2 separate regions of the Homo sapiens genome follow, and region 2 is linked to region 1. The links come from fine-mapping of genetic effects on gene expression. Tissue or cell type: whole blood. Region 1 holds a variant in brackets; the other region holds the start of a gene. All regions are shown on one strand. Distances are from middle to middle. Region 1 has its middle 120 kb from the start of LINC01781. Region 2 holds the start of LINC01781 (long intergenic non-protein coding RNA 1781).

Region 1 (17,070 bases):
ACGTGACTAACGTATGAAAGTTTGCAGACAAAAATCTCAGTTCACAAACTAAGATATGTGGAAAATGCATTTTCTTGATTTTTTAAAGTAAGTTGTCTTCTGCTGTGTAGTCTGTGTCCCTAAGAATATAATTAACCTTAATTATTGTTTGAACTTCTATCCAGTCCTCCACTTGACAACATGTTCAAGGTTCTTGGATCTTACACAGCATCAAAACAATTGGATCATGTGTCGCAGTCTCTGTTCATCAGTTAGCAGTTTACCAACTTGGCCATGAAAATCTACCATTCACCTATTTGTGCCTGTTCATCAGGTCTGGGAGACTTGCTGACTTCATACAGTGTCCTTTAGGATATGATGACAATATATGAGACGGAATCATTGATGCTTCTGTTACTACAGCCTGAGATGTCTTTTGGAGTGTATCTTTCTGGGATCTTACTGCCTTCACCAGAACATTGTCAGAAAATAGGACCTCAGCTTCTATCACTCCAGAGCATATATAACTCTCTCCTCTTGACAGCTAAGAGAATGTCTTTTGAGCCTGAGGGAACCCTTTCTCCTTCCTTTTTCACCAAAGATGTCTATCTGTGTAATATACTAAAATTATTAGAAGACAAATTACAGGACATTTTATAGATTACTACTCCATTCAGATTCACCACATACCTCTTTTGAGGCACTAAAGCACAGAGCTAACCAACTATCTTAGTGGAGTGAAGGGAAAAAAATATTACAAGCAGAAGAATTAAACATAAGTTAATACCCCAAAGTATTATCCAGGTATATTTATAGAATCAATATTTTGAGAAGACACAGGTTTTATGAAATGTTTTGATGATTATTTTGAAAATGTTAAAAACAACATGAATTATTTCTAGTATCAGCTAAGTACTAGAAATTTTAAAGGCAAACATTAACCTTATATGTATAAAATGTAGGTATTATTAATGATATAAGGAAGAATTTTACTACTAGAATCTTTCCCAGCAAGTCTACAGGTTTCATAAAAGAATAGTAAAATTCTAGCAGGAAAGGACAGTGTATCTTTCTGGAATTAAAAATTGCATTGGTTAAGAGCTTTGGGGTGCAAGAAACAAAAGCTTTCCTTAGGTAACTTAAGTAATGGAGTTTTAATACTCCATTTTAAAGATCACCAGAATTTCCATATTGCAGGAGCTTGTGATGGGATATCTTGTTGGAAAGAAGAGCTAAGTAAGTGGTCTCATATTTGCCTTCTATAACATAGACATTGCTTTTACTTATATTGTATGAATTCTTTAATCCCACTGATAGAGCAGAAAATTAATAATAACATATATTAGTATGTTAACATCTAATATGGTTTGGCTGTGTCCCCACCCAAATCTCAACTTGAATTGTATCTCCCAGAATTCCCATGTGTTGTGAGAGAAACCTAGGGATGGGTAATTGAATCATGGGGGCCTGTCTTTCTCAAGCTATTCTCGTGATAGTGAGTAAATCTCACAAGATCTGATGGGTTTATCAGAGGTTTCTGCTTTTGCTTCTTTCTCACTTTTCCCTTGCTGCCACCATGTAAGAAGTGCCTTTCACCTTCCACCATGATTCCAAGGGCTCCCCAGCCATCTGGAACTGTAAGTCCAATTAAACCTCTTTTTCTTCCCAGTCTTAGGTATTTCTTTATCAGCAGCATGAATACGGGCTAATACAACACCCAAATAGAATAAGAGAAATAAGTAGATGACTTTTTGAAGAAAAACAGGTGTAAAACTGAAACAGAACCAATAGCACAAAGATAACAAGAGAAAAAAATAGTTCATTTTAATTTCAGTTGTTCTCATAACATATAATTGAAAGTAAAAATTTGCTTCTTTACAAAAAGAATGTTATGATTTGCATATATTTGAAAATAAAGTCAATTAGCTTTAGAATTAGCATTAAGGAAGTACCATATAAGCCATGTCAAACAAGGTGACCCAGGACACTCCTTCACCTCCTACATTGTGATGCCACGTATATAATATGTATAGGCCTAATTTTGATATGGAAATAATGAGCAATGTGGGCCACACAAAGATGGTACTGAGAAGGCACACAGAGAGGCACTAAAAAAAAAGCTAGATGTAGTTAAAAGTAGAAATAAAGGCATGGGTTTGAGTTTTACATAAATATCTAAATTCAAATATATACATTTGACAACTCTGGAGATATCTACAAATGGCTTGCTTCGATGGCTGGATTTGGACAAGTCAATATGTTTATAATTCATGTCATTATAATTCCATTTTGCCTTACATATCTGCTTAGTTGCATAAAAGAAACTATAGACTGGGAAAATAGGCATCGCCTTTTCTTTCTTATTTCCAGGAATTACAGTGATCCAAATAGTCATAGCACTTCCCTGGCTATAGGCCCTGGAGTTTAGGCCTGTTCAGATAGAAGAAGTTTAATAGTAAATAGTGTCATCAGGACACAGCAATGGTTCTGGAAATCCAATAGCAGCTTAATATATTGACAATTTTCTGTTAGTATATCAGCCAGAATATTACATTCTCAAGCAATTAAACCTTATCTCCTGCTGTTTTTGAAGTCATGAACCATCAAATTTCCTATTTTTGTTAATCAGCCTCTATTCTTGATTATGAGTGCAGACAGCTATGAGTGCAGACAGGGTGATTTGGTAGAGAAAGTATGTAAAGAGCCGACTAGAGAAGTTATTCAAATCCTCATGACTTTAGGCAAGACCATTTTCCTCAGAAGCAGTTCAGGACATTTCTAGGACCTGGAGCATAGTGGATTCCTTTGCTGTATGTGAATCTATAGAAAAGAAAGCTTAAAGGCATATCAGTTGAGAAAGAAATCTTATTATATAATAATCATTGCAAAGTGATCTTAGCATTTATGAACCAACTTTAAAACAAAAAAAAGTGTAAAATGCATAAAACAAAAAATTAAATTTTAATATCCAATTACTTTTGGAGGTATATAATGTCTATTTTATATATTATTGATCAATGTGCAAAGTATGTAGAAATTGTATATTAAACTTTTAATATGTATAATTTGTGCACTGAATAAATACTGGGCCTTAGACACTACCAAGGGTTATCTTTAACACTGAGACTGTAGCACTGCCAAAAGTATATTCTTTTTCTTCAGTGAAAAGCATACCCGATCCAAAAAAAATCCATAATAGCTACCTTATTGTGGTTATGGTAGACAATTAGAACTTTCTTTAATAAACACATTATTATATTCTCTTCCATTATGTTTCAATTTGTGATTCTCCATGGTATTTTCTGTTGGCTCCAACTTCTATCAGTGGGCACATGTTGGCGATGACTGACAGAGGCTGCTTTCAATAGTCTTATTCGCAACAACACCTCTTAGTTGAAGTCCCACATGTAGTTTAGCCATTAGTCAGCTCTTGGCAGCCTCAGATGCCTTTGAGACAACAATTCTCATTCATTGCTCTGTCAGTTTACTCAGGTAGGTTTATTCATGTCTTAATGTATATTTTTAAATTATCCTTGAGATTTCCTCTTTAACCCATGGATTGTTTAGAAGTGTGTTGTTTAGCTCCCAAGTATATAGAAGATGGAGTAGACACACTTTTTTCCTATTCCTCCATCTAAGTATAACTTAAAATCAAGACATTATATATATACAAAACAAACATAAGAAAGATCTACAGAGTGAAGATAAGAAGGCAGATTGGCTGTGGACTTTGGGACCAAGGCAACAGCAGAGTGGTGATTTTGGTGTTTTCCTCTTCCTTCCTATATCCTAGGCTTAAAGCAGAAGTTGGCAACCCAGAAACACCAACGCGTGCAGAGCAAAAAGAAAAAACAAACAAAAAAGTGCACACTTAATAAACAAACAAAAAACTCACCATCACCATCAAAAGTATGTTCTTTCTCTATCTAACCAAATAACTAGGAACTGGGCAACCCAGAATGACATAACTTTTAGACCACTCTACTTCAGTCAAATACCACAGAAAAAAATATGGCTCCCTCATCACCCATGACAGCAAAGGCTGAGTGGTGAGCTGAGATTTTGATACTCTTCAGGCTATAATGAGGTACCCCAGTACCCTCTCCAGTGTGGTGTTATATAAAGGTTTGAAGTATTACTGGAGGCTGACTGAGGAACCTAGACTTTCACACATACAGGGAAGAAATGAGGGAATATACCCACTGCTTCTACTGGGGTGGTGTCAATGAAAGCCAGCTAAAATGCTGAAGACACAGCAATAAGCAAGATAGGTTATGACTTTTTCTCTCTCCTGAATATTCTAGTGGAGATCAGGGTCCAAATGTTTGTAATATTAAACACTGTAATATTAGGTTATGTATGTTACAGAATGACTGTGTCTCTTGCTACAGACGTATAAACCAAAGGTAGTGCCTATAGCTAAAAACAGACAACTGAACAAAAATGTCGTATGTGCCAAGATGAAGAAGCAAGGCAAGAGGCAAGTACTAGAAACCAAAGCAACTTAGATGACCATGAGGTGTCCACATGTCTTGATAAAGAGTGATGACTATCTGTCCACATAGAAAATATTTCATTTAATTATGCCTAGGAAAATATATGTTTATGGAGTACTTACATAGCATAAGGCAAAAGAAAACACACCTTTTAAAGATGCAGAGCAGCTGAACAATGAATAGGTGATATTGATGACTGATATATTCTGATTTATAGTTAATTTAGATGAGCCTACTCTCCCCATAATTCTAACAGCTTTAACTATGCCACAGATTTTCTTGTGGATGAGGTTTATGTTAACCATGGCTGGTCAATGGTGGAAAGTAAGGATAAACAGGACCAAATATCTTAAAATTTTGAACTGTAGAAAAATCATAATACATTCTTTCATTAAATTTTGATATAAGATGTGTGTCTTTAAGATCCCAGTCATGAGGATTTATTATAAAATGAGCTCAAATGTAAAGCAGAACTAGCATATGGATTATGAGCATGATATTAAACGAAGATATCAAGAACATGTAATTAGTTTTCAAGTAATTAAAAAACAAGAATAAAAGTTATTTTACGTTCTGATATAATTTTTTAAAAAACTCATCTATGTCAAAGGTAGACATTCGGAGCTACACATATGACCCATTTTTAGAATATCTCACTTCCCTAGTTTTCTCTTTAGTCTTTTTTACTTGTAATAAGAAAAGCTTCAAACCCTTTGGCTAGTATTAATTGTACACAGCAAGTTGGAAAACACCTCTTATAGTATTCTTGAAAGTAAGAAAGTCTGTTTATTTTTGATGGAACATTTATTAGTTATGTTGATCCTGCAAAT[G/A]TTAATGTCAAAGAGATAAACTATATGAATAATAATATTTTCTGTGAACTTGAAAAAAGAAATGGTTTTAACATTATAAAGAGAGATGCATATTATTATCGCAACATTTAAAAAGTTTTGTAAACAGTATGAATTAAAAGTCAGATATTCACAATTAAAAATAGAAGACAAATGATCAGATTTGGAAAGGTTGTTGAACGGCCGTGGCCATTTTTGTAGTGCACAGAAAGGCTAATGTTTAATCTGGTACTGTACCTTGGCACACTTATATTCATTAACAAACATTGAGGAGAATGGATTCTCATTACAAATTTTTCAAATTATGTGACATAACGGGAAAACAACATTCAATTATTATGCTAGGTCCTGACACTCCAACATTTTTGCTTTTTTATATTTCTCACAGCTGGTGAAGAATGCCTATCTTGTCATCTTTTCAATGCTGGCTGATATATATTTGTTTCTAAATCAGTTGACATTTGTACTGGAAAGGGTTCAAGTACCTTCATCCTGTTCATTGTTACCTTATGCCTGTGGAATTTTACTGTACCACTCTGTAATAAAACTCTAGTCTCTTGGCTATTTTGTTCAGAAACCTGCGGTGATTTCCTAATTGCCTTCAAAATGAAGTTCTTTAACTTTGGCCAAGCAGTCAAGCACATGGTATTTCTTTTTTTTTTTTGAGACGGAGTCTCGCTCTGTCGCCCAGGCTGGAGTGCAGTGGTGTGATCTTGGCTCACTGCAAGCTCCGCCTCCCGGGTTCACGCCATTCTCCTGCCTCAGCCTCCCAAGTAGCTTGGACTACAGGCGCCCGCCACTACGCCCGGCTAATTTTTTGTATTTTTAGTAGAGACGGGGTTTCACCATTTTAGCCGGGATGGTCTCGATCTCCTGACCTCGTGATCCGCCCGCCTCGGCCTCCCAAAGTGCTGGGATTACAGGCGTGAGCCACCGCGCCCGGACCACATGGTATTTCTAGTGGCCATCTTCTTTTTTTTTTGAGATGGAGTCTCGCGGTGTCTCCCAGGCTGGAGTGCAGTGGCGCGATCTCGGCTCACTGCAAGCTCCCCCTCCCAGGTTCATGCCATTCTCCTGCCTCAGCCTCCCTAGTCGCTGGGACTACAGGCGCCCGCCACCACGCCCCGCTAAGTTTTTGTACTTTTTAGTAGAGACGGGGTTTCACCATGTTAGCTAGGATCTCCTGACCTCGTGATCCACCCACCTCTGCCTCCCAAAGTGCTGGGATTACAGGAGTGAGCCACCGTGCCCAACCTCTACTGGCCATCTTCTTAACACAGTTATCTTCTACTATCCTCCACCTACCTCCTCGTCAACATCTGATTCTCCTAACTTTCAAGTATATCTTGCACGTGTGCCTTTCTCCACATGTATCCAGCTGTATTAGTCTGTTCTCATGCTGCTAATAAAGATATATCTGAGGCTGGGTAATTTATAAAGAAAAAGAGGTTTAATGGACTCACAGTTCCACATGGCTGGGGAGGCCTCACAATCATGGTGGAAGGCGAAGGCAAACAAAGGCATGTGTTACATGGCAGCAGGCAAGAGAGCGTGTGCAGGGGAACTGCCCTTTATAAAACCATCAAACCTCATGAGATTTATTTACTATCAGGATAACAGCAAGGGAAAAACACGCCTCCATGATTCAATTACCTCCTATTGGGCCCCTCCCACCAAACGTGGGGATTATGGGAGCTACAATTCAAGATGAGATTTGGGTGAGGGCACAGCCAAACCACATCACCAGCTGTTCCCATTCCCCTTCTGTATTGTCTTCTCCAAATTAACACCACTTTTCAAGGCCTGGCTCAAATGTCACTGTCTCCAGGTGCCTTCCCAGGTTTTTCTCATGAGTTTTTTCCTCTGTGCTTCCAGTGTTCTTGTTCCCATTACTATTTTATCTCAGTATATTTAGCCTTGTATTCAAATTTTATTTTAAACTTGCCCGTCTCCTCATTATTATTAGGGCTTGTGTTGTTTTATATTTCTATAAATTGTATTACCTTTCATATTGTGTTTTTCCTATTGTACTTCTGAACAAAATAATGTTTCACTGTTGGTCAAAATTAATAATTCATTGAAATATACCAAATGAACGCATACAAAATACGCTTGTAGGTTTAATTAGATCTCTGAATATAGCAGACCCAGACCCAGTCACAGTGTGATTTTTGCAATATGAATTGCAGTTCTTATTGCATAGATCATTCACTATCAGAGCAAGTCTGTTGATTTATGTTGAATTTTAGAATCCATGAATATGCATATATTACATATTGAGGTTAAAACAAAAATCCTTAATAGGGAATTAAGACAGGATATTTGTGAATGTTTCATGGCTAAACGGGACTATGATAAGCTATGCCAATATATATTTTCAAAGTAAGCAGAAAAACAGGAAAAGAAACCTAATATACAGGCATTTTAGACACATAATTTAGCCTTAGGACAAGGTTCTGAAGCAAACAACACAAAGTTAAATGCCTCTAAGAGGTACATAGATAACAGAGATGTGGTATGCAATTTGAGTTATGATGGGTAACCTGCTAATAAAGGGAATAAATTGAGTTTTGCCATGAGCTAATGTGGGCCAATAATACCAAACTTAATCTTTTTTTTTTTTTTTTTGCATTATTTGTCAATTTTTATATGAGTTGTCACACAAAACTCTGGGTTTTTACCTTCTCTTGAAAAAATCTAAAGATTAAAAGAATCTCATAATTAGCAGTCTGTGACTTCTGTTCAAAGGCTCTTATAAAAGGTGATTGAAAAGAGAGAGACAAGCAAAATTAAATGTAGCAGTTGGAGAGAAGTGGAAAATCCAGTATACCTGTTTTGAAGTACAGGTTGAAGATCACGAGTGATTTGTGAAAATTTAAATACAGAATAATAGCAGATATAGTCTAAGTAATGACATAACTATATTGATATGAAAGGTTGATTTCTGACTTTTGAGAGTTGATCTAATTATAACTTTTGAGAGTTGATTTTTGTTAGCATTGAGAACATTGTACAAACATTTTCTCAGTCTTCTATATAAAACCTAATGGTATCATTATTTCAGATGAAGAAACTGAGACACAAAATTAAGCAACTTCTCTGAGATCCTTGCATAGCAGGAAATTAAACCCAGCTCTTTTGTACTAGAATGTTAGTGTTCCTAGCAAACACGCTAATCTGTCTCCAATTATTTGGATCTAAAATCAGGTATATATATGTTTAGCTAGCATCTGCCCTTCACAGAGTTCATTATCTCTTGGGATTTATGATTAACTTCTTTCTGGGATTGAGAAACTAGTGACTAGCAGCTAGATGCTGGCAACTCAGCTGAAGTGGTTTGAAGAAGCTTACCAGGAACTAGCCAGTGCCCTAGTGGCCATCTCTGAAATATCCCTAGAACACCTGCCAGGCAACAGACTGGAGGGTTTATTCGTGTGCTGTTTGTACAGTTGAGAAAAAAGATACTGCCAAAAGCCCAGCCTGAAACAGCCTAAGGATTAAAAAAGAAGGAGCAAACTTGAAAGATGTAGATTGAGTAAATATGTAGGACTGATTTGGCACTCAGTCCAATGTGTACAATAAAAGAAAAAGCATGAGTCAGTAATTTGCATGAGGTTTCTCTCTTAGGATTTTACTGAGTAGAATAGAAAGGATGATTAGAAGGGAATATGAAAAGAGGTAGTATTTTTGTGTCAACAGAAATAGGTCAATAAAATATATAATATGTAGTTTGGTTATATGGGGTGATGGTTCTGGCCATATTGATGCTAATTGAATAAAAATCATTGTTATCAATTTCTAGTATAATTGAAGAGCTTTCCAAAAAATTATTCATCTATCATATTTTATTTTTAATCATTAAATTTACGTTTTTTTTAATCTGAAGGCTAAAGTTTGTCTTTTATTCTCTTGACAAAACATTGACAAGCTGAGAAAAACACACACGGAGTGCTTTTGATGGGCAAATATGAGTCATGCTGCGTTGGATGAGTAACCTATGAGTGAATTTTGGCCATTTTGTTTTGAGCTGTCAGATAAATTTCTCTTGGGCATCTTTCCTATTGCTGTGCATCTGAGCAAAATAATATTTTATTGTTGGTCATAATTAATAATTCATTGAAACATACCAAATGAATGCACTCAAAATATAGATGTAAATCTTATTAGATCTCTGAATATAGCAGTTCCAGTCACAGTATGATTTTTGCAATATGAATTGCAGTTGTATGTTAGATCCTTTTCTCTCAGAACAAGTTGAGAATTATAATATTAAAAAATTGACAAATTACTTTCTGCTTATAAATGAGAAAACAGATTTGTAAAATGTGAAATGAGCCATTCTAGCAAAGTAGACTTTGAGCTTCAAGTGTAAACAGTTCAGTTAATGGCTGGGGTTTCTCAATCTCAGAAGCTCTGGTGCATGGGGAGGGTGAAGCAGAGGTTATGGGAGCTCTTCAGCATTTTACTGAGAACATCCTTATAGGATTTAATTAGGCAGATTACCTGTTATGCATGGTGTAGTGTGCTGAACAGTTTTAAACTGGTATATCCTCGAGGCAAATGGAAGGCAAAGTCATAAGGAATTACATTCTACACAAATAACTCAGAGTATTTTATTAGTGGGCCTCATAGAAATAAAATCTTCCTTGCCAATGCACCATTTAATGTTTAACTCAATTGAGTACCAAAGAATTGGTTAAATGTTCAACGGCCATCTAGATTTATGGATCCAACCTGACCACCCTTTCAGTATTTTTTTTTTCTAGTAACAGCGTTGGAGCTTTGAAATAAAACAAAATACCTTTAGTTTATAACAGCATGTGCTTTATTCTACATTACCAGATAATAGCACCAGTATAATTGTTTACAAGAAAGATAAATCTGGTTTTTGAAAAACAGTAATATTTTATAATTAGAACTTCAAAAAGTAAAATTGCTTAAAATACCCCAATGAACAGTACTGTTTACTAATCACTTCAGGATGCAAATGTTAACTTGCTACGTATATGCTAAATTCCTGAATCTACTTAATCACTTTATTCACCTAACCACCTACAGGGAAGGGTCACTGTGTCAAGCAATCCTGAATGGTATTTTGTGTGAATTGGGAACAAAGCTTTTAAAGGCCAGAGGTTTAGGAACATAAACCAGATGTGCTCATTTTAAAAAGTCTACTTAGTTTGTGGAGGAGAAAGGTCAGCCTCTTAGATCTTTTAAAAATCTTACTGTCAAACACATTCCATGGAAACTAAGCATTTTAATATTCTTAGAGGGCTGCTTCACTGACTTTTTTTTTGATAAAATGTTTGCTCTGATCTGTGTTGTACATGAGTCTATTCTACATTTAGAGTACAATAAGATTTCCTTAACCTTTTAAAAACCCCCAAAATAAGTTAGAATATTTATTTAGACTTTTATTCCACAGAAATGATGTTGAATTATTTTTTAAAATTGTAATTCTAAACACAAATGTCTGATTTAAATGCCAATTCTCAATTATTTGCCAAGTACAAATCTAGGTCACAAATTGGCTATTAAAAGGAATAATTTATAAAGATATATTTATATAAAAGTGAATGACTTTCCTCTTTAGGGTGACGATACACATGATGTCTAGTGCTCACTTTCACTATAATTCTGTTTTAAAAGAATTTATTGAAATTCATGCTTCAATACTTCTGCAGCATATAAATTACATTGAATTTTTGTTTAGACTATTTTTATACTATTCATCCAATTATTCATGAGAAATAGGTATTTCTTTATGATAATAGTTCAGATTTACATTCTCCTAACTCTTAAGTTATTCCAGTATTTCAGCTGTTACTGGTGCCATCTAATCTCACCTCTGAAAGCAGAGTTGTGTGTATTTAGCAATACATACTCTGATATCCTATGGCCTTGGGATGAGTCCCGCATATTAGCTATATGATCTTGGGTAAAGTTAAATTTTTAAATTATTTAATTTCAATATCTGTTTCATTTGGTCAATATGACTAAATGAGAAAATACATGATATGCTAACACAGTGCCTGGCACCACAGTACTGAGTACATTGCAAACTTTTACAAAATTTTACCTACTCTATCCAATCACATAACAAGTCAAGCAGTATCTCAGCCTAAGAAACGGCTGTAGAGTTTGAAAAGTGTTGGGCTTATCTTCTCGTTCTGACCCTCTGATCTCAGGCAACATCCTTAAAATATCTTAGTCTTTTAAAGGCCTATATTAAAGCAAATATTTTAAATGCTTATATTAAAATAGGTTCTTTGAATTATTATAAAAATATGAGATAACGTTTGAAATGACCTAGTACCATTTCTCAATAAAGTTATTTAAAATTTAATTTGTAATGCTTTATCAATGTTATGTCTAGCCTCAGTTTAAATGCAGGTTATTTTTAAACTATAGTAAATAACAATTTAAAAATAACCTGAATTTAAACTGAGACAAGACTCACATCTGCATCAGTGGATTCGGTGTTTTGGCAGAGCCTATGAATTTCTTCCTGACATCTGTTTCTCCCTTTCTTAGTAATAGAATTCCTGATTTTTAGCTAGCCACATGGACATCTGGAATAAATGTTACATTTCATGGCCTAAGTACCCTGTTTACTAGCAGAGAAACGAATGTTGAACCTCTAATATAACACCATAACTTGGAGAAAACACCTACCTCCCGGTAAAATGTCGCTTACGTGTATTTTTCTTTTTTTGATAATAGAATAAGTAACAATTTGCCCATAGTGAAATACACACTTATTCTGAATGCAGATTTGTCTTCTTTGCCCACAGTGATTCTACAAACAACATTCCTAAGTTTACTGCATTCATTCTTCACTCTAAAATATCCGCATATGATTCCTTCTGACCAAGAATTTTGCTTTACAGCAAAAAAAGCAGAGCAAGGGGATAATTGCCACAGCACTAAAGAGTCATATCATGTACTCCATCATCCAGAGTCAGAGAGCCTTTTAAGAGAGTGGAAGACTATATGTACTGCTCAGTAATGTTACCAACTAGAAAATAATTTCATATGATTTGTTGATGTGTACATATGGATTATCTTCTTAACCAACAAGCATAATGGTGTTTTTTGTTTGTTTGTTTTTGTCACAGCTGAAATACATGAGTCTGGGAGGTAAGAATGGGGGTAGGAGGGTCACCTCTCACTGTTTCACTTTATGACCCATTTACAAAATGCTGCTTTCAATTCCTGTGATCTTGACCTCTCCTGGCTTGGAGATCTTAGTACTCAAGGAAGAAATTCTTCCATCAGGGAACACAACGATAGCTCAATTGGAGTCAGACTTGAGCTTGCCACCTGGCCATTCCAGGTTTCTCATGATATTTATTCAGTATTTACACAGAATGTTACAAGGTGGGTGAGTGTGATTGATCCTCATTAATCAGGGGAAATAAGGTGACCATTGTGCATTAGGGACACAGGAAATATTTGGAAACCAGTGCATTCTTTTGTGTGCCTGATAGAACTGTCATATCCATTGCAAATAATAATAATAATGGCAAAACTGTAGCATTTCAATATAAGGAAGTCTTCTAAGAACTCAGACCATTCAGATGTGAATGTTTGAATTACCCATCCAAACTCCTGTTAGGCACTGGATGAGAAGCAAGTAGAAAACGGACTTGAAGGAGCAGGACCAAAATTATAAATACCAACTATGATATCACTACCAGCTGTACAAATGAGGTCTTCAGTGGCTAACATATTGTTCCTTGTTCTGTTATGTGTATATTTTTATTAGCTAACTTTACTTTTTTCCTTCATCTCTTCCTTTCTCCTATAATTTTATATTCAGTGTGGGTGGTGGTTAACTTTATAATTTTATCCTTGGTTCAGGGTTGTGACAGAATTAGAGGAGAAATGATCACACAGAGATGAAATCAGTGCTTGCTAGAACTCATTTTAATTTATAGAGAGATATTGCATCATGTTAGCTGGCATCATATTGTGTTTCCAAATGCTCCTGTTTGGAAGCTTAAATTTGGGATGAAGGGTATGTACGGATGACAAATATTTCCAGCAGAAGTTTTGTAGGTACTGTGCCTTGGCTCCCACACAACCTCCATTCCAATCACTTTTTGGTGTGCTATCCTGTACTGAAAAGGCTAGATAATCCAAACTGTATTTCCCAATCTTCTCATCTCGGGAGTTCTGTTGTAATTTAGTGTCTGCCAAACACATTTTGTAAGTTTTAGATTTGAAACTGAGTTATGGCAAGAGAAGAAGAACCTAATGCAATCATTTCTGATGATAAAGTTTGTAGCAGAAGCATCAAGGATCCTAACTAGATGACTCTCTGCCATGATGTGGGAAGAATTCCCCATTGGGGCAAAGACAGTGGGGCTCTGTGTTCTGCCCCTTCCTGATTCAGTGGCTTCTTATAGTCGTGGGAACAGCTTTCCTGCTAATATCAGAGGCACTGTGATCAAAAGGTCTGGGGGGAATATTTGTCCTCTCTGAGCTTGATCCACTCACTCAATCTTACAATAATTCTATTTGGTCAATCTATAATTTAATTAACTTCATCATAACAATTATTCATTCTGAATCTGCCCCCACGAAATTGAAATATTAGTACAAAGATGAAGATGATGTGATGCCTTTGTTGAAGGAACTCACACTCATAGGAAGAGAGATAGTCACTATGATGCAAATCAGACTGCAATATAATAGAATTAAAAATTACATGCTATAGGAACATTGCAAGTAATTCTATTTGTTGTTGGATAAGGTTCCATACTCTTTGGGCCCTAATTAGAGTAAACTGAGCAGAATTTTAATAAAGAATTTAGGTGGTACAGGAATGGTTCCTCAGCATTTCAGGCTGAGGTATTGGAATTCTGTGGTTGGGCTAAGTGACTGTCAGATGAATACAGATGAAGAGTGAGTTTTTCCATTACTGGAAAACCCAAAGTGTGAGTGTGAATGGGAGATCTAGGGGAATAAATCTAGAAAAATAGGCTGGAGATCAGGTTGCATTGAGACCTAAATGCAATGGGAGTTTACATTTTGTTTTGTGGGGGTGGGTTTTTTTTTTGGTTTATTTTGTAGGCAACAAAAATTACAAAGCTCAGTTGAAGAAAGGAAATTATGGAGCTACCATATAGATTAAATTAAATGTGAAAACGAGAGGAGTATGAGGAGGCTAATTAGGACGTTATCACAATAGGAAAGGATATAACCTAAGGCAATAATGTGGGAATGAAGACTAGCAGATAGACTTTATAAATACCATGGAACAAAAATGAACAGGGCTTGGCTTCCTATTAAATGTGAAAGTTGATTAAATATTTGGACTTGAAAATGGCTTTTGAATCCCTGAAGGCATGAAGATGCTGGTGGCTTCAACAGGGGCAGGGCCATGAGGGGCAGGGCCATGTGGGTGTGACTGGAAATTTATAGAGTTCTCTTCTGATTTGTTGCACTAGAAATTTGTATGGTTTATAAGATCTAGCTGGAGATGCCCTGCAGATTGTTAAAGTCTAGAAGTTAAAATAGAAGCCAAGATTATAGATGCAGATTTCAGAGCCATATTTAGGAATTCGAGGTGGTATTAAATAATGCCAATCCCCACCATTGCTGTTTGTCACAGTGGGCCTCATACTGCACCAGCAATTTTTGCAACAGTTAGGAATGACATCTATGTAGCTAATAAAATGGTAAAAATTAATGAAGAGAAGTTGATAAGTATGAACAAAGTATTTTTTTTAGCTCATTGAGATGCTCCTGGGGACTCCTACTCTATATTGGTTGAGATTTGGGAGGAAGTCAGAAAAAATTTAGTTATTCCTGTTATTATAAACCTCTTTTTACTTAATACTTGATGAGGTTTGGAAAACTCAAAGTATGAAATATCAAAAAGTTTTATTTAAAAATTTTTATGGGCAATTTTTTCTCCTAAACATGTTCCTCATTCTGAATGAGTCAATGGATTTCAGCAAGCTTACAAAATTGATAGGATTTTTGAAGTGGTAGTAAAAACTCACATTGCCGTATACATTTAAATCACTTCTTCCAATTTGGTTATGCTAGAAAGTAAATCTTGTTACAACCCATCCTCTTCAGAGATACCCATCTTTTTTTCTCTTTCCTAAGATATATCTGCTCTTTTGTCTCTTCCTCTTTGTTTCTTGATAAAATAGACTGAGATTCTGTTTCTCAGTTGCTCCTTCATAAACATTCCAAAGAAAATACAAACAACCACCAAAATTTTGAAGACAAAATTGTCTGATGGTATACTCACATATGAGTTAACAATAAGCATTGAAATTTTTATTCAAAAAGAAATTTGATCTACATAACTTACTGTGAAAAGAAAAATCATAGTTCCAAACTGTTGACTTTTCCATCATTGAAGATTTTGATAGTTTTTTGTGTGTATGTAGCAGTTCAATAGATAAACACGCACACACACACACCTACAACTGCTACCTGTGATATAATTCCAATCAAAAGAAATTGCAAAGAAAGGAAAACAGTTAACAAGTGTTATCAAAAAGTAAAATATGATAATACGAATCAGTGTCGTGGGTGTACTTTTAATTAAATGGCAATATGTAGTAAATACCAGTATGTACAGAATATTAGCAAAGTACTTTGTGTTAGAGGAACAAAGTCAAAGAAATCTATCTACTTAGTGTCCTGAAAACATAGACTTTTAGAGCTGGAACTTTTCTCAGAGGCAACATAGCTCAATCCCCTCATTTCATTCATGAGGAAACTTAATGCTAGACAGGCAAAGTGATTGCCCTTGCTTTTATGGCTATTAATGTCAGATGGAAGAAATAAGAGTGGATCTACTACTTAACTGAGAACTTATAATAACCTATACAGGTATTTATTGCCTGCTTTTTTCTCTTAATTTCAAAGAAAACAACTGAGAGTTAGAAATTTGTGATAAAGATTTAATGACTTTTTTTCTCTCAGCCATAATTGGAAATATCTATATATAAAAACATCAATTGCTGAATATTCTCTGCCAATACGGAAAAAGGTTCCCATATAAATAATATGCTTTGTAGGCCAGCACAAAATGTATAGCCCCATGGTTTCCAAACTCTCTGTTAGGTGCCTTGGGTGCTACAAGAAACTCACAGAACCACTGTAAGAAATTTTTAAATTTTGAAATATTCTTCTACTCAATCTCTGTCAAATACCATCCAAATTGCTAGTTAGAGGTAGTTCAAAATTTCATCATTAGATTGTTACATTATTTGTAGTGGTGTCATATATTTGCAAAGCTAGGATTTTGGCAATTCCTGTGATAAAAAAACAAGTCTCATGCAAAAAACAATGTGTCACAGGAAATTAAGATGGTGGTATTTGATCAAATTATGCTGTTTGAGTGTGCAGTACTCAGTAGACATAGGCATCCCATCTGTATGGAATTGTATTTATCTAAAATAAAATAACATTTTTTCTTTTAATTTCTGTGCATTTTTTCAAATGCTTATTAAATTTTTTGAACTTAATTACTTAATAAATGAAACAAATATCTATTCTGGCCTCAGGGTACATGAAATAGTTATTGAAACATCAACAGTACTATCAATCTAGAAAGTCTAGAGACCACATAGGTACCATTCTTTTCTAATTTGGACAGATCAAGTGACCACCTGCAAGTGAAGATGGAGAAAATTTTACCTAAAAACAGGGTTCTGTGAAGAAATACAGAGAAAGAAGGAAGGTTTCTTAACGCTGAAAGTGGACTTGTATCCTAA
Region 2 (17,070 bases), 120 kb before region 1:
CCTGAGAAGTTTTCACCTGGAAAGTGTAACTACAAGAGGCTTGAGTCATGTGAACTGCACCAAAATAAGACTGAGCTTCATTTAATACTCATTATTACCCCTGAATCAGAGTACTGTTTGTTTTGCAGTGAATGCAACTGTTTAGTAGAGATGGAATTATCTTTAAAATTGAGAAACTTTTCTGCCACAGTGGTAGAATGCAGTATATTCTGACCTTTGTAGATAGAACTGATTTTATTAAATACAACTGGAATAGAGATATGTATAGATATATTGATCACCAGACTTATAAATCTATTTATTTGTATATCATCAATCTTCATGCACTTACCCAAAAAGAATACTCACACTAGTTTATGAAAGCAAGACTAATTATGATAAAGTTTAGTTCTAACTGTCCAGGATGTAAAATTCACTCGTATAAATAATGATTTTAAGAAAATATAAACTGTATTAATATAGGGTTTATTAAATTTGCTATAGCATGTAAAAGTTAGTAACTAATGGACTTAGCGAAAACATTATCTTTACATTCAAAATCAATCCTTAGGCTATTGAATTGGAGGGGAAGGAGAGAAAAGTTCTTTACTGAATAGGTTACACTTCATATTGTTGTTTTCACAAGTATTGTTACCAAAGCTACAAACTCTGATTTCACAACCCCTGTACATATTTATTGATCATCTTGCTTTTGGTAGTTATACAATACATTACATTCAAGTAATTCAGATGTCCAAAACAAAAGCAAATAGGTTTCCAAAAAAGCTTCACCTCAATTAGGAAGCAGAAGGCCTACCAGATTATTTTATTTTTCTTTAGAAATAAATAACAACATAGATAATCCATCTGTGATCTTAGTACTCTGACCATCAGATAGTAGACTTTTTTATCTGTTAATGAGTTAGGAGCTAACTCTGATAACCTTGTTGTTATTAATACCAAAGACCAAAATCCAGTCAGTATAAATATCTGTTTATAGAGGAGAGAGAGAGACTAGCTAAAATATTATCCCTCATAAAAACATAGTTGACAATGAAATCTATGACAAATCAACATGTCTCCTCATTTATAAAGCTTTGCTGCTAAAAGGTGCAAAATATATTGGGTATCTAAAATGTGATAGAAATAATGAAATACAGATTTGGGTCCTGAGGAGGACTAGAAAGATGATTTTTTTTAAGGAGCTGATTGCTAGACTCCTTAGTGATATGCACTATAGACAGATAACAGAAAAAAAAAACAATAATTTTTACCTTCTTTTTAAATAGGAAGATACCTTTTTGTTTATACATATTTTGATGGTATTTTATTTTGCAGTTTCAAGTGTTATGTTTTATTATGAAATATACCATTACACTTTAAAAAGTACATTGTTTGGAGTTCACAGTGAGCCCAGCATTTTCTAGATTAGATCAATGCTGAAACCAAATATAACAAGAATCAGCTAAACCTGGGCATTGATTTGACATCAACCTTAGCTTTTGATATTTCTTTCTGTGATCTGCCTGCTTCTAAAAATTCTGTGCTTTAATCACCAGAGAGCATGGGTTGGAAAGACTCATTTAGATTTAAGGAACTTTGGCTTTTAGCAGTTATATTGGCAAAATAAGTACCAAGATTGCCTGATAATGATTATGTCTATATGTGAACACTATCATCATTTTTTCTCACTTGAGAAATAATTTAACTCCAACTGAAGGATTGAAGGATTTTTTAATAGATTCCTTTATTTCAAAGCTTAAATGAAACAAGGATAAATAAAAAAGATCATTATTTAAACAATGCTTTGATGGAAATAATAGAGAAACATTCTTTCATGTTGGAAAAATAGTTTAGAATTGAGTCCCTTGTAACTCAACATTTATCATTTTCATTTATTTAGTGAGTATCATTTAAGTAATAAGTCCTAATACCTAAAAGGTTCATAAAAATTCAAAACTTTTTTAAACAATAAATAATTTACTTTTTATCACTATGTGTATGGTATTTTTTTTAATTCCCACTAGCTCAACAAAGAAACTAAAACACTGAGTAGCACAATGATGGTTAGAATTCTTTTAAAGAATCAGTGAAGGAAAATAATGTCTTCATTCTCAATTGATAACGCCTAAGTTGTATTTACCTGGGCCCAGCAGAAACTTGTTTGATATGCCTCTGACAACAGTTTATTACCATTTTCTTTAAAAAGATAAACACAATATTAATACCATTACATTAAATAAATATATTTATAATAATGAAAGGAAAATGTTTTACTTATGAATTTACATAATACATTGCTTAATATATTGATATTTGAACACTGTTGTGCCTTACAAAGGTTTCATTTACCCACTGAAATGAAAACGTTCATAATGAGCATAAGCTGATACAAATATTTTACAGAAAGCTAAATATTTTATAGCATCTACATTTGTTGAAATTTAAAGAGGCTATAATAGAAGAACTTTTGGACAAATATAATCTAACTGCTTTATTATCTAAATCTCGGTCTTTGATAAAGCTCATTTCAAATGTATGACTCTAACACATTCAAGTATTCAGTAAATTGAAATGAGGCAACGGACTCATATGAATCCTGCTAGACTCATTATTGATGACAAAAAAGGGAAGTTAGAGATGTAATTATGTAAAGGATTTATCAACAAGATAGCTGCATTATCAACAGTGCAATGATCTTGACCAAGAAGATACACTAGAAGACATTTTTGTTCTCCATGTTCTTATTCTTTAGGTTTCTTGCCAGTTGGTTTGCACTGGAGACATGTTACTAACTGTGTATATATGATGTAGACGAATGTATGAGAAAGTGCAGGGCTTACTAGAGTGGTAACCATCATGCTGTTTCCTGTCAATTCTAGAGCTATGCAATGCATAGAGCCTTAAGGGTATTTTAACTTTATACAATTTTATTTCATTATTTTATAACCTAGCACTACTAAGTAAGAGCAGTACTGTGGCCTCCCTGTTCTGCCTAGCTATTACCATGGTCATATTACAAGGATGATTTTCAAAATGTTTAAAAACTTACAGCACTGACACCAACCAATTGCAACAGATATCAGACTTTTCACCACATGATGCAGATGCTTTACCAAGAGAATATTAGAAGAATATCATAGTGATACAGGTTGCTCTTTATGCAAGAAACTGGGAATTGTAGGTGAGAAAACACGTAAAGGAAACATAGATCTCTCAATTATCTGTCAAAATCAAAAGTCCAAAATAAAGTTGTTTCCTTTTTTGAGACAGAGTTACACTCTTGTTGCCCAGGCTGAAGTGCAATGGCGTGATCTCTGCTCACCGCAACCTCCACCTCCCGGGTTCAAGCAATTCTCCTGCCTCAGCCTCCCTAGTAGCTGGGATTACAGGCATGTGCCACCATGCCTGGCTAATTTTGTGTTTTTAGTAGAGATGGGGTTTCTCCATTTTGGTCAGGCTGGTCTCGAACTCTCGACTTCAGGTGATCCGCCCACCTTGACCTCCCAAAGTGCTGGGATTACAGGCATAAGCCACTGTGCCCGGCCCAAAATAAAGTTTTACTATAAAAAAATCATAGAAAGCAACAACAGAAAGGTATATATTTTCCGGAGAGAAATAACCCCAAGTTATTGCCTTATCTCCTGACTGACTTTACATTCGTGCACTCCATAAAGATAGCACAATGTGCAGATTTTCATAGCCATCGCCAGTGTGATACTTTCTTTGCAAAGTAATAGATTTGCCACTTGGGCCAGGCTCTTTGACTTGGTTACTACAACCATATGTGGAGTCTCTACCTCTAGGGTACATTTTTAAAGTAGCAAGATTCTAATTCTCCATTCCCTTGAAGGCATCGTTTGTTTGGAACATAAGCTAAAACTATTTAAATAAGCAATTTAGAGTTGTAGTTTCAAGTAAAAATGGCAAAATTTGATACAGGGGTGTCAATTTATAATACATATTTCTTAAGTACTCTCCAAATCCCTCAGCAGTGCTCTGTGAATGTTGTAAATTCAAAGCAAAGAATTAAATAGCAATTCTGAAAGCTAATAAGGTATCAGGTAAAACACCAACTAATTATAGAACATGGGGCTGACAACGCAGTATCAGGTGTGGTGTGCTTTTGTAATGTTTAAGTGGCTTTACTGAAACATTATTCAAAGTTCTAACAATAACATTAAAAAATAGTAACCATGCCCTAAATCTATTCGGTTTTTACTTGAAGAATAATGTTTCAATTACAGATTAAACTTTAGTAGATGAATCACATTTCTTGATGCATAAGAACTTTTTAAAATATTAATTCCAAGCATTTCTTCAAGTTTTAGAGTTATACTAGTCAAAATATGCAACCCTAGGTGGCTTAAGGTATTGGTTACTTTCATCTCCTTACATTGCTGGATAAATGTAATCAAGGTTCCCACTCGTCTATTTTCTAAGAGAGACTGACATTGCCGAAGCTTACTTTATATGGTTCGGAAGTCTACACTTGAAATGGCTCATATTTATAATCCTCTGGAAAGAAAAAGGATTAATTTAGAATGCAGGTGTTAATGTGTTTGGACCATGCCTATGTCTCTACTTCTGTGATACTTAACACATTTATTATTAGTCATTTTATGACTGCTCCTATTAATATGCAACAACACTATGCCAAGATCAGCACCTTTCTTTCCATTTCACTCTTGAAAGGACTGAGATATACTGTAAAGAAAGAGGAAACTTACCTATCTGCTATTAATGTTTTCTGTTCTTTTAAAAGAATACTTCAGATGCCTGGAGTATTCTTGCACTTACCACAATCGCTGCCTTAGCTTAATAAAAAAGAATAATTTTATTAGTTTTTTTCATTATTTCCATATATCATGTTGAATATTGATATTACAGCAGTCAAAATAACTGTGAAGTGTTTCCCTTGATATCTTGAATCTCAGTAGAAAGTGATTTAACCCTGCCTTTGCAGACAGACCTGAGTGATAGAGCCTGAATATATCTGGTCAGGCCTCAAACAGCTATATCTACATAACCTAGAAAAATAATTGTTGGAGGCAGAGTATTGTTAATGTCCTATAATTGACTTAGAAGGTTAAGTGACCTCTTAAAAGAATGTGAACTTATGAATTAAGCAGTTCTTTTACTCTCATGGGGCAGTTTATTCGCCAAGAAGAAGTAACTGTTAATGAGCTCCCTAGCTAGCAAAAGCTAGATGTAAAGTATGTACAACTTCAGAATGCCTAGTACTTCATACAGTAACAACAAAAGTTAGGTGTTGAGTTCATTCAGATCTTAATGGATCAAAAGAGAATAAGGGAAGCTTGTTTTAAAAGCTGAATAGCAACAAAATTATTTTGGAGTTTTGTATTCATGATAATTATTATAAATATAAAATTTTTAATGCCTTTAAAGTTTTCACACAAAACATGGAAAATTTTGAACTTTTTAAAGTGGAAATTCATTATTTCTTCTCTACCACAATTTCCCTTGGAATTTGAAGGTACTCAAATCCCATGTTAAAATATTATTAGAATAGAAATTGTCATTCAAGGACGGAATTGGTTTTAATTTAGTAAATAGAAATTTAGCACCCACAATGAGTTAAATTCTGTGCTATGCACTAGGGACACAATGATAAAGAAACTGTGGTTTTGTTTGATGAGGTTTTTTTTCCTCCCATCAAAGAGCTTCCTGTCAAGTGAAAGATTCAATAACTCAGTAGAGTCAATGCCAAGAAGTAAATGCTGTGTTGTGGTTATACCAAGGAAATTATGGAAGTCAGGCCCACTTCTTTTCCTCTACACAGATTGGATCAGCATGAGTGATATCACTCTTAGTTGCTTTTGTTTTAATGTGGACCTTTGGGCTGGGAGTTATAGTCTAACGAGGACTAACTTTTCACTACTCAAGTACAGAGCATATACTTAGCCATGGGTTGGACTGTCATTTCTTCCTGGAGTTCCTAATCATATAAATTACAAAGACAAAGTTTTTTTTTAAAGCCTAATAAATCAAAGAAAGGAGCATGGTTGGCTGAGTCAAAGGTTTGGCAACAGCAACCACTATGAGTAGGAAACTGAATAAAAATATTAAATAGCCATCTGCTAAAAAATAATAAAAATATATTTGTTTCATGCTTAATATGTTTAATAAAAATATATTTGTTTCATGCTTAATATGTTTAAAAACAAGGTCATGAATTAGATATCGTGTTCAAATCCAGAACTGTGGAAGGAATACAAGAGTTGGATGCAGAATTGCTAGCTGTTCTTTTTTTTTTTACTTTTCTATATTTCCTGTAAGAGGTACATTGAAGAGCATCACACTGCTTGATGGCATCCTCTAGGACTAGATGACTGGTCTACTGAGGCTGAGGCATCAGATAGCAGAGAATCAGAAGCATTACTATGACTCTTCTCAATGTCTGATTTCTGAACCTTCCACTGCTCTAATATAGTTTATATATTTCCAATGTAGTTCTATATAGTTCAGTGTTACTTAAAGTATAATCTTGCAGCCTCATGAGAGACCTTGTTAGAAATACAAATAATCAAGTCTCACCCCAGACTTAATCAGAATCTTTCCTATATGGGCCCTGCAACTTGTATTTTAAAAAGCCCCCAAGGTGATTCTGATCCTTAAATTTGAGAAGCATGACTATCAAAGGGTATATGATCCTAAGAATTTATTTGGTAAGAGCTGAATTTGGTAAGAGCAACAGATTTGGGTAAGAGCAATACTTAAATGCTCCAAAACCATTTCTTATGGTGACCTTTTTCTCTCAGGCTAGTGTATACACAAGCACAAGTATTTATTTGGAAGGAATAGGAGCTACAAGAAGTGGTTTTGGAGCACTTTAGTGTTGCTCTTACCCAAATCTGACCCAATTCAGCTCAGGATATTACTATATAAAGCCTATTAAAATAGTGATAGTTTATTTCAAATATAGGAAATTATATAGAGTCTTTTGACATAATGGGATAGCCAGATGAGTAATAGAATTGGAATAATTTGTCCAAAAAAAGTAAAAAGTAAAAAGAAATTTAGGAAATAGAGAAATTGATGATTAATTGTGGAAAGCAAGAACTTTCACAAATGGCAGAATAAATTCTTAGAACCGTATACCCTAAATACTTTTTTGGAACGAACAGAGGATATAACATTATTCATATATATAAACACGCACCTTTAGAAGCAAATGAACATTACCAAGAAGATAAAGCACCAATAAATGCTCAAACTTCTGTATACTTCCTTTAGGAATCAGGAACATAGAAGATATAAATGACACCAAGCAAGAAAACAAAGCCCAATGATAATCTAGTTAGACAAGGCAAATCTATGCATACTTTTCATTCATTTAGGAAAGATCCAGCTGTCTCTTACTATGCACCCAGCACCATGCTAATTTAGAGAGAGAAAGCAGTGAAGCAAACAGGAACAATTCTTTCTCTCTTCAATTTTAGAGCCTTGTCACTGAGGCAGACATTGTAACAAAACAAAATAAAACCAACCCCCCTCCTCCCTATACCTCCAAAGTACACACTAGGTTATAGGCTGACGGCAGGGGGACCAGGGTTTGTATTTTTGCTCTATCATTGACTAGCTCTTTAACCTTGGACAAATCACATCTTTAAGCTTCAGTGTCTATAATGAAAGGTTAATAATAGACCTCAGTATTCGAGTTATTGTGAAGATTAAATGATTCATGATAAATTGCTGACTCATTGACTAGCACATAGTAAGTATTTAATGTTAATATTTTACTGTATAAGTAGATATGCTGTGTTAATTGAAAGAAAAACACAAGGTGTTTTGAGAATATATAACCAAGGAATCTAATTAAGATTCCATACAAATAGTGCAATCTTATACTAAACTAAAACTACCCAGTTTTCTGTATACTTATGCTTTCTGTAAACTATATGGAGTTGAGGCTTCCAGGGACTCTATGTGAGACTGCCAGCTTTGGTTTTTCTAATCTGACATTAGTAAGGTAACACTGAACGATTTACCCTAGTTCTGAAGCAGAATCGTAACATAAAGGACTGCCAGTATGTCCCCTGGTCTTGTTGGCTGGAAATGTTATTTTCATACAACCATTTTCATTTTTAGTCGAGCAGCATTGAAACTTTCCAGATTCCTTGCTGTTTGGCAAATGTTTTAATTGGTTATATTTTGCTACCCTGGGCACACTATTAGACAAAATTGCAACAAAAGACATCAATAAAAAGCAGAAAGCTTCAGATTGTTAAAATCGTGAATGTTATTAATACTATTAAAATGCTAATTGCTGTTTAGAGGAGATTCAGTTGCAATTCTAAAGGAGGAAATGCTTAGGCTGCAGGATCTGAGGCATGGATTGTTTGTTCCCTAAAGGGGAGAAAATTCACTTTTGTTTAATTTATAGGAACAAGAAGGCATTCCAAGGAGGTACACTGAAGTGACTGTAGACCTCCTAGGGTCAGAGCCACCTTCAGCTTCACCCCCACCCTAGGTGGTCCTTAATTGCCACTACAGACTGCCTGGCTGGAACTTATTGTTTGCACTGCACATGACCTTGGATGAAAACTAGAGCGCTATGAATTAATCCCTGTAATATTTTGTGTTTAACATCTGTGTTGTCACCAGCTATTATTCAGAGGACAAGAAAAAAAAATAGCCAGATCTATCTCCTATTACATTTTTTTTTAAGTCTACACTATTGTTTCCCAAGGACTCCCTAAATGGATCACCTATAAATGAGTGAATCCATTCATTTTCTTTATTTTCTGAAACAAAAGTCTACAGAATTTAGGGGATAATACCAAAACCAAATAAGACTATTTTTTCAATAATAGGAATCCCCCAGATATCTGTTTCCTCTATCTATATTGCTATCATCTGTCTTTTCTTTTCCAGTATCTGTTTTAAAATAGGGGAGGATTCCAAAGCACATATATCAAAATAAAATGATTTCATGTATCAGTTACGGCTTTATTCATTGATGAAATGTAGTCACCACAGGGAGAAATGTAGCAACAACTTAGCATCCAGAAATAATACAGAACACTGTGCTGCATTAAATGAAAAATACCTGCAAGAGGAAGTGAGTTAATAAAAATTCAATTACTCAAATGGGAACTTTTCCAAGACCCCAGGGTTAACACCTAGATTAAACTCTCACTCTCACTCTCTCTCTCTCTACACACACACACACACACACACACATGCACACACACACACCTGGCTTTATTAGTTGTCAGAAGTGTTTAAAATACTCCTTTTCCTTTTATATAAATACAAGAGATACATTTATGGCTAAAATAGTTTTTATATCATCAAGCTGAGAACTAGTTTTACATAGGAAGCTAACAATAACAACAATAATAATCACAAGGATTAGAAAGAAAATGACAAAGTGTGTTGGACACGACACAGAACATTTGAAGGCAGACCCCAACACTAGGCTGTAAAATTAAGTAATGAACAGTCACTGTAGAGGGCAGAGTGACTCACAGAAGAGTCAGATCTTTGGTCTTTGATTTCATAGCTCCTTCTTAGATCTTCTCTTAGAGGTTATGGAAAGGAATGATCATCTTGTGAGGCTATTTAGGGAATCTGAACATAAAAGAAAATAGAGTTACAGATGGGTGTTAAGAGACCATTTTACTCTACTTCAATAATGTGAAAAACAGAGTAATTAGCATGGAGAAAAAAATAAGTAAATATGAGCCTAGAATACATCCTATACAGAACTTGAAATATTTTTATAGCCCTAATGTGTACTGAACTTATGTGGAGAGAATAATTTCAGAATGATATATTTAGTTGGGGAGCCACACAAACTGGGCTCTCTTAGATGCTAACTGATTATGGGAAGCAAGAAGTGAGCAGCATGGAAAAGAAATGGTAAGAATTTAGTTGGAGGAGGAAGACATCTGGAGGTTCGGCCCCAGTTAAAAATTCATAGGCAAATCCTGCTGGAAAGGGAGTTAGCAGTTTAATGAATAAGTTATTATCTAAACCCCAGGAGGTTAAATGTTAACAGAAAGGACTTCAACAATGATGTCTTAAGTGCTCCTAACTAGACACATAATGTTTAGTGTGCTGCCATTTTTTCTGAGTGTTAGTTTTAAATAGACTATTGACAAATTACAGATTTTTTTCACGTATTGAAATTATATTCCAGATGATTTTGAGATTTACTGGTATAATATTCTCCTCATGAGGTAGGATGGAAGGGAAGAAATAGAGAAAAAATGTTCTGCTCTGAAATAAATGTGGTGTTTCCTGACAGCGTTTGTCAAGGTAAGGTGTTGTCTTTAAAATGGGACATCTAGTTTCAATTTACATTATGCTTATTTCTAAGACTTCTATTTTTTGAGTTTTATGAGTAGATTCTGCTTTTCTCTATCATTTATTCAGATTATGACCACATGTGGCACTTTCTTGTATGGAGTGGTGAAAGTGGGGAAGGAAGAGAAAAGATATTTTACAGTAATGTCATATAGTAATCCTGTTAAGATTGGAGTTTATGAAAAAAAACACGAGATAAAACATTATTGTGATATTTCTTATATCAAAGTAGAATTTTCTTTCCCTCAATTATTTTTATGTTTTAAAAATGTTTTTCCCTCTTTTTGTCAAAGGCAGCCTCAATAATAGTTATCATATCTCAGTGTTTATGTTCTTAAGGCTTTCAATATTATTAATCAATCTTTCTATTTTTTTAGTAGATCACAAGTTTTAAAGAGTGTATTTTAATATAATACTCCTATTATAGGCCTATAAAATATTTAATTAAGAGAATATAATTTTCTTACTACGTTTCTGTGATTATTCATACCCCGCTCCCTCTTCCCAGAACACTTACTTGCTCCATTAGATTCTTACACAGGACCCTTTCTTTTTCCTATCGTAATTCCCAGCATAATGTGTTATCTCGCAGCCACTTTTTCAAAGTATATTTCCTTAGACTTAATTAGATTAAGAAAAGAGCAGTAACTAAGGCTTCTACCTCTTAATGAAAGCTTCCTTAGCTTTACAAATACCAGGCCAGATCTCTGAAGTTACTGTTTGAAAAGGCCCGATTCTAAAGCACTTTTATCCACATTTGACTCTCTTGAGGCATTTGTTTTTTCCACTTCAACTCACTTAATTGCACATGTCCCCAGTCAGACTGCCTAAAGAGAATGACTGTGTCTATCTTGGTCAGTTTTTACCCCAGCACTTAACACAGAGTCTCAAATAATGCAGGCAAACAACAAATATTTGTTATATTAATTCAGATTCTATATAACGTAGAAAGCAGAATCAATCATCAACGTAATAGATTCTGCTTAATTATAAAGAAATAATTTAAAATAACAATAATAATGATGATGATAGTTAACATTTATCAAATCTTCCCTAAGTGCCTCAGACTTTTCTAACCATTTTGTACAGATTAAGTATCACAAGTCCAAGAGGTAAATGCTATTTTAAACTTTACTTTATAGAGGAGAAAACTGATCACAGCAAGTTTGAGGACATAGTCTTTAGTCAAACACCCAGTAAGGGGTAGAGGTGATACTGACACTGTGTTAACACTTTTAAGCCTCTGACATTTTATTTGTAAAGCAGCTGCTTAATATATCTAAATAACTAAACCTCCCTTGCATTCCTTTTACTACCTATCATGCAGTTACTAATTCAATAAGATCTTTATTATGCCTTAATATTCTATATTTCTCTTCCTAATTTTCTTTTAGAGAAGTGAACTGTATACAAATGAACTATCCTAATCATTTTCAAGTTATTATGCATGCCCCTACTCATTTGTTAGAAAACTCTTTTCTCTTAATTATCTTTTCTCACAATAAATTGATTAAAGCTCATATTATACATATTAGTTTCTTAATTTCTTCCTGCTAAGATTAACCCATGATTATTTGAGAAACCTTCAGATTTGTCCTTGCAAACTTGAACTGCCTCTGGTTAATTGGTTCCTTCTACAGTTCTTCCTTTCTACCACTGACTTGCAGTTACCTCCAGTTATTGAGCAGCTACTTACAAAGTTATTTGATATTTGAATCCCTCTTTTCTAGAAGACATGCAATCTGTTACGCTTTAATTAGCAGGATTATCCTAGGCTATACCTGTCTTCTTCACTAACAGAATTTCTACCTCATATTACTTCTGATTATCAACAACTGGCTTTCTTAGCATCTAACACACTGGAAATTCTGTGTGCTTGATCCCATTTTTAACAGTGCCAAATTTAAATCAAATGTGGTTCATGTGGCAAGGATATTTATTTTTTCTATTTTTTAATTAGTTTTATGCTTTCAGTAACTAGTAGATCAAGATGCATTTCATACCCCTTAGAAACCTGTAGTTTCTGTATGGTAGAAGATTTAAATAACATTGTTATTTAGGGAGATGTGTTTTTGTTTTCTGACTGATTTTTTCTCCTCCAAATCATAAAGGCTTTGTAAATCACTCTCAACATTTTATGAAAGTGACTTGCAAAATAAGATACTTAAATGTAAAATCTTAGTTGTCAGCCATCAGTAAAATAGGCTGTATTGGCTGGGGTCACTCAGTTGCACAGTGTCATCTGGAAGTGAAGAATCCTTGGAAAGTTTTCTCTACTATCACCAAAAATTTTGGAAATCCATATACACATTCCTGATATTGATACAGATGGTCTTCCCAATAGTAAGGTATTTTACTTGAGACATTGAAGATTTATCTTGTTCTTTATAACAGTATAGATTGCTTAATTCAGCCAAGATATTTCAAAAGTTGGAAATTATATTTCCTCTATACCTGACCCAACAATATATTTGTAATTTTGAGTGACATTTTGTTTCTTACACATGAACTGACAATGCATCTTCTGATCAGTAAAGAATGCTAAATTGTGTTAACCAAATGCCCTACATGTTAAATCTATTTCTAATTTTCAAAACAATTTACAGTGTCTACTACTTTTAATTCTAAATATGTAAAATGCTCTAAAAATGTACGTTAAACACTCATCACTGCTTCTAAAACCTGCCTCCATTGATAGCAACCTGATCCATTTCACTATCATTGTTTTCCCATATTACTAGTATGATAACTAGTTGCCTTATTATACCCATGATGTATTCCCTGCAGTCTGTTCTCAACATAGAAGTCAAGTGAGTTCATCCCTTCTTTGCTCAAAACCCTAAGGGCTTCCTATCTGAGTAAAAGAGACAAATTCCTTTTGATGACAAGATTATTTTTAATCTATTCTTCCATAACTTCTTTGACTTCACCTTCTTCTAATTTCCTACTTACTCTTCTCCAGTGCCATTGGCTTACCTGTGCTATTTTTTTTATTCCTTTTCTTTTCTTTTTCTTCTTCCTCTTTTTTCTTTAATAAAAATAAATACAGACAAAATTATTTTCCCTTGTTTTTATTTCTGTCTAGAATGTTGCTCCCCTCAGGGGGCTCACTTCCTCTCCCACGATAAGAGAGAAAAACAGGAAGGGTAACTTGGAAATAAGTTAGTTTTAGAAGCTGTGAACATCTAATTTTTAATAATCTAGGATTGAATTACGATAGATATTTCTTAATACACAGGATTATTTTCAATATCAGTCAACATGAACATTTGAAAATAAATGCTTGATGTGATGTATAATACAGACCATCCTGCTTAATATGCACACTAATCCCCTTCTAGTATGTTTTCTTCTGCTGAAAAGACTGGAAAGATTTTTTTATTTTTATATTTTTTTTGAGACAGAGTCTCGCTCTATTGCCCAGGTTGGAGTGCAGTGGCGCAATCTCGGCTCATTGCAGCTCACTGCAACCTCTTCCTCCAGGGTTCAAGCTATTCTCCTGTCTCAGCCTGGCTAATTTTTAAATTTTTGTTATTTTTTTTTAGATGAAGTCTCGCTCTGTTGCCCACATTGGAGTGCGGTGGTGCAATCTCAGCTCACCACAACCTCCGCCTCCTGGGTTCAAGCGTTTCTCCTGCCTCAGCCTCCCGAGTAGCTAGTATTACAGGCACACACCATCATGTGCAGCTAATTTTTTTATTTTTTGATAGAGACAGGGTTTCACCACGTTCGCCAGGCTGGTCTCGAACCCCTGGCCTCAAGTGATCCACCCACCTCGGCCTCCCAAAGTGCTGGGATTATAGGCGTGAGCCACTGCGCCTGGCCACTAATTTTTGTGTTTTCAAGTAGAGATGGGGTTTCTCCATATTGGCCAAGCTGGTCTTGAACTCCTGACCTCAAGTGATCCACCCCCCCTCAGCCTCCCAAAGCGCTGGATTACAGGCGTGAGCCACCGTGCCTGGCCAAGATTTTTTTTTTAATGCAATGTATAGTTTCCCTTATAATTATGGTTTTGGAAGTAAGACTTCGATTTAGAGCTTCATGGAATGAGAGGCAGGACAGAAAGTGTCCATTTTTGCTGCTGGAGAGTGTAATATTGGTGTGCAGTTCTGGACTAGCAAATATAGTTGAAATGTCCCAATTCTATAGTTAGCCTTCTGATTCCACATCTTGCCTAATCATGGTTGGCTGAGGCAGCAGTCTCCTTGATGGTCAAGTTCTAAAGTGTGCCTTTGTGACTAATTGCCTGTGATAAGTCCCTTTGTCTTTAAAGTAGAACAGATTTTGTTCTCTGTGACACTGCGGACTGAAACAGTTGGTGTGTTTTTTAAATTTTTTTTCTTAAAGTGCAGAAGATTGCATTATCTGTTAAAATATGCCTTAATCTTTGTGATCTGAACATGATACAGAACTTTGGGAATATGCCAGCATACAAAAACATTTTTGTTTAATCATGACATTTAAACTAACCCTCTACCAAGATAAAAGGAGAAAGTGATGTACTAGTAGAGCAGAAATCCACTAGATTGGTTCAAGTTTATATAGCATAAAGGAGTACTACCTTTTGTAACCTCTTTGATTTTTTTCTGCTTTTGAAGAAGGAAAGGTCGAAAATAAAGCACTGATGGAAATACATGATAAATAAGGTAGGTCTCATGGCTACACATCATGAAAAACTAAGCACAACATTAGAAAGAGGAAAATGTGTCAAATATATTCAGTTAACTATACTATGTTAAGATTAAGATATACTACTGTGCTGGAAACACAAAACATCAAGTATTTCACAATATGATAAAATCTTTCATCCCTGCTAGTGACTCAAATAAGTATGTGTTCCTTGCCATTTACAGAAAGGGCATGTCTTATTATTTCTCAATATTATGAGTATGTCAAATGCATCTTCACATATATGTTAATAAAATCTTGAGCAGGTCATCCTTTGGACAGTGATTCTATGTATTTTCACAATGGATATGCAAATGTAGTTATACATACATATATATGAACAATAAATACATATAAACAAATCATCATTTCATTATCATCATCATCATCATATCTTAGGTGTTTAATGGGCACCTATTTGCTTTGAAGTTCATTATGTAATGGAATTCAGGTAAAAAAGCAAATGGCTTCTCATTGTAAGCAGCTTGAAGTATATTTAAGAAAAGAAAACATAACATTTTTATTTTATGGTTTACTGGCTTACTCTCTACTACTCACCATCAGAAGTAACAGAACATAATTTAGCATCCTGGAAATTATATCTAAAAAAGATATTGCAGTAATCTATGGTGGGTATATATGATTTAGCAGAATCACCTGAGACTAAGACATGTGGATTTAATATAAAGTAAGATAAACTTGATATGATCATCAACAATGTAATGAAGTTTGAGGCTGAAATGCCAGAATTATAATATTTAAAACAAAAGATAATCATTTTATTGTAGTTAAATAATACATTTAGTTCTAAATATAAGACACACACATACACACACAGACAGATAGATGGATGGATGGATGGATAGACAGATAGATAGATAGATAGATAGATAGATAGGTAGATAGATAGATAGATATTCTCCTGGAATATTTTTAGGCAAGAAAAATAAGTATAACTAAAATACCTGAAACTCTGAAAGCTTGCTTTGCCCAGAAAAAGGAAGACGATGGTAGAAAGGATCAGGAAATAGTTGCCAGGTATGAAAGCAATTTGACATATTTAGTCTCAATTAAAAACAAATAACTTTCTCTTAGAGATGTCAAGAAGTAAAATATACTTAATCAAAGGATACCAAGCTATCTGTCAGAGGAGCTGTTCAAGCAAAATTTATTTGACAAGTGGGTTGAAATGATTCAAAGGAAAGCCCGACCTCTGAAATCTATCGGACCAAACTTTAATTTCCCTTTCAACATCAAAATACTATGCTTTTGAAACACACATTAAAATAAGCATACAAGTCAATAAATGCCAGTCACAGATAATTTGTAAGTGCTAAGAGAGTTTAGAGATGGTAGAGAAAATAACTTCTATGGTGGAAAAAAAGCCTCAAAAAAGTAATGGGATTTTAATTGGACCTTTAGGGGAAAAAAAGGAGTACATGTTGCAAACATTCCAATAAAGGGAAGACATCTGATCAAAGATAAGAAAAACCCAAATATGTGTAGAATTTTCAGGGGAAAAAAATGATAAAATATTCCATTTGTATAGTTTATACCAATTTTCAAAATTCAAAACAAACATTACACATTTTATTCTCATAGTGTCCCTGTAAGGAGATAATGTTACCTACACTGCAAAAAGAAATGAAAACTTAGGCTGGTCACAGTAAAACTGCAACTAGGACCTGTACTTTCTAACTTGCTTACAAGTGTTCATTCATTCTACTCTATCTTAAATGACATTCCATGGAGCAGAGTGTAATCTTCTTTTCATAGTAGATGTATATATGAGTCACATCTTGGAACTCGCAAAGAAGTTCTAAATTTTGAGCACTGTGTAATACATATTTATTGTCCCACAATTGAATATGTGTTTGCATGGGAAATATGTTTCTTTGAAGGTATTCTTTGAATCCAGTTATTTCAAAGACAAATAAATTATATGCCATTATGGCTTCCTTCATGTTGCATGTACAGCTATTATAAAATCCTCTTGTGTTAAAGTTAAAGCAATTCATATAGTAGTAGTTATTGTTGAACTTTTAAGATGCTATGCTTATTTTTGCTATGTGGAGGGAGAAAGTCCAA

Evidence for each region. PIP is the estimated chance that this variant, and not a neighbour inherited with it, causes the effect.
Region 2: it holds the start of LINC01781, and the variant in region 1 is the best candidate, but not a certain one, in a credible set for the expression of LINC01781 in whole blood (TOPMed, PIP 0.56).

Annotation. Positions count from the first base shown.
Region 1 is chr1:80,647,519-80,664,588 of GRCh38, forward strand. No RefSeq gene overlaps it. Among named protein-coding and RNA genes, the nearest start is that of LINC01781, 120 kb to the left of the region's middle. The variant G/A (reference allele first, on the strand shown) is at 5,306.
Region 2 is chr1:80,525,677-80,542,746 of GRCh38, forward strand. It overlaps LINC01781 (long intergenic non-protein coding RNA 1781), which reads left to right and starts at 10,079. Exons shown (of 3, transcript NR_125941.1): 1 at 10,079-10,266.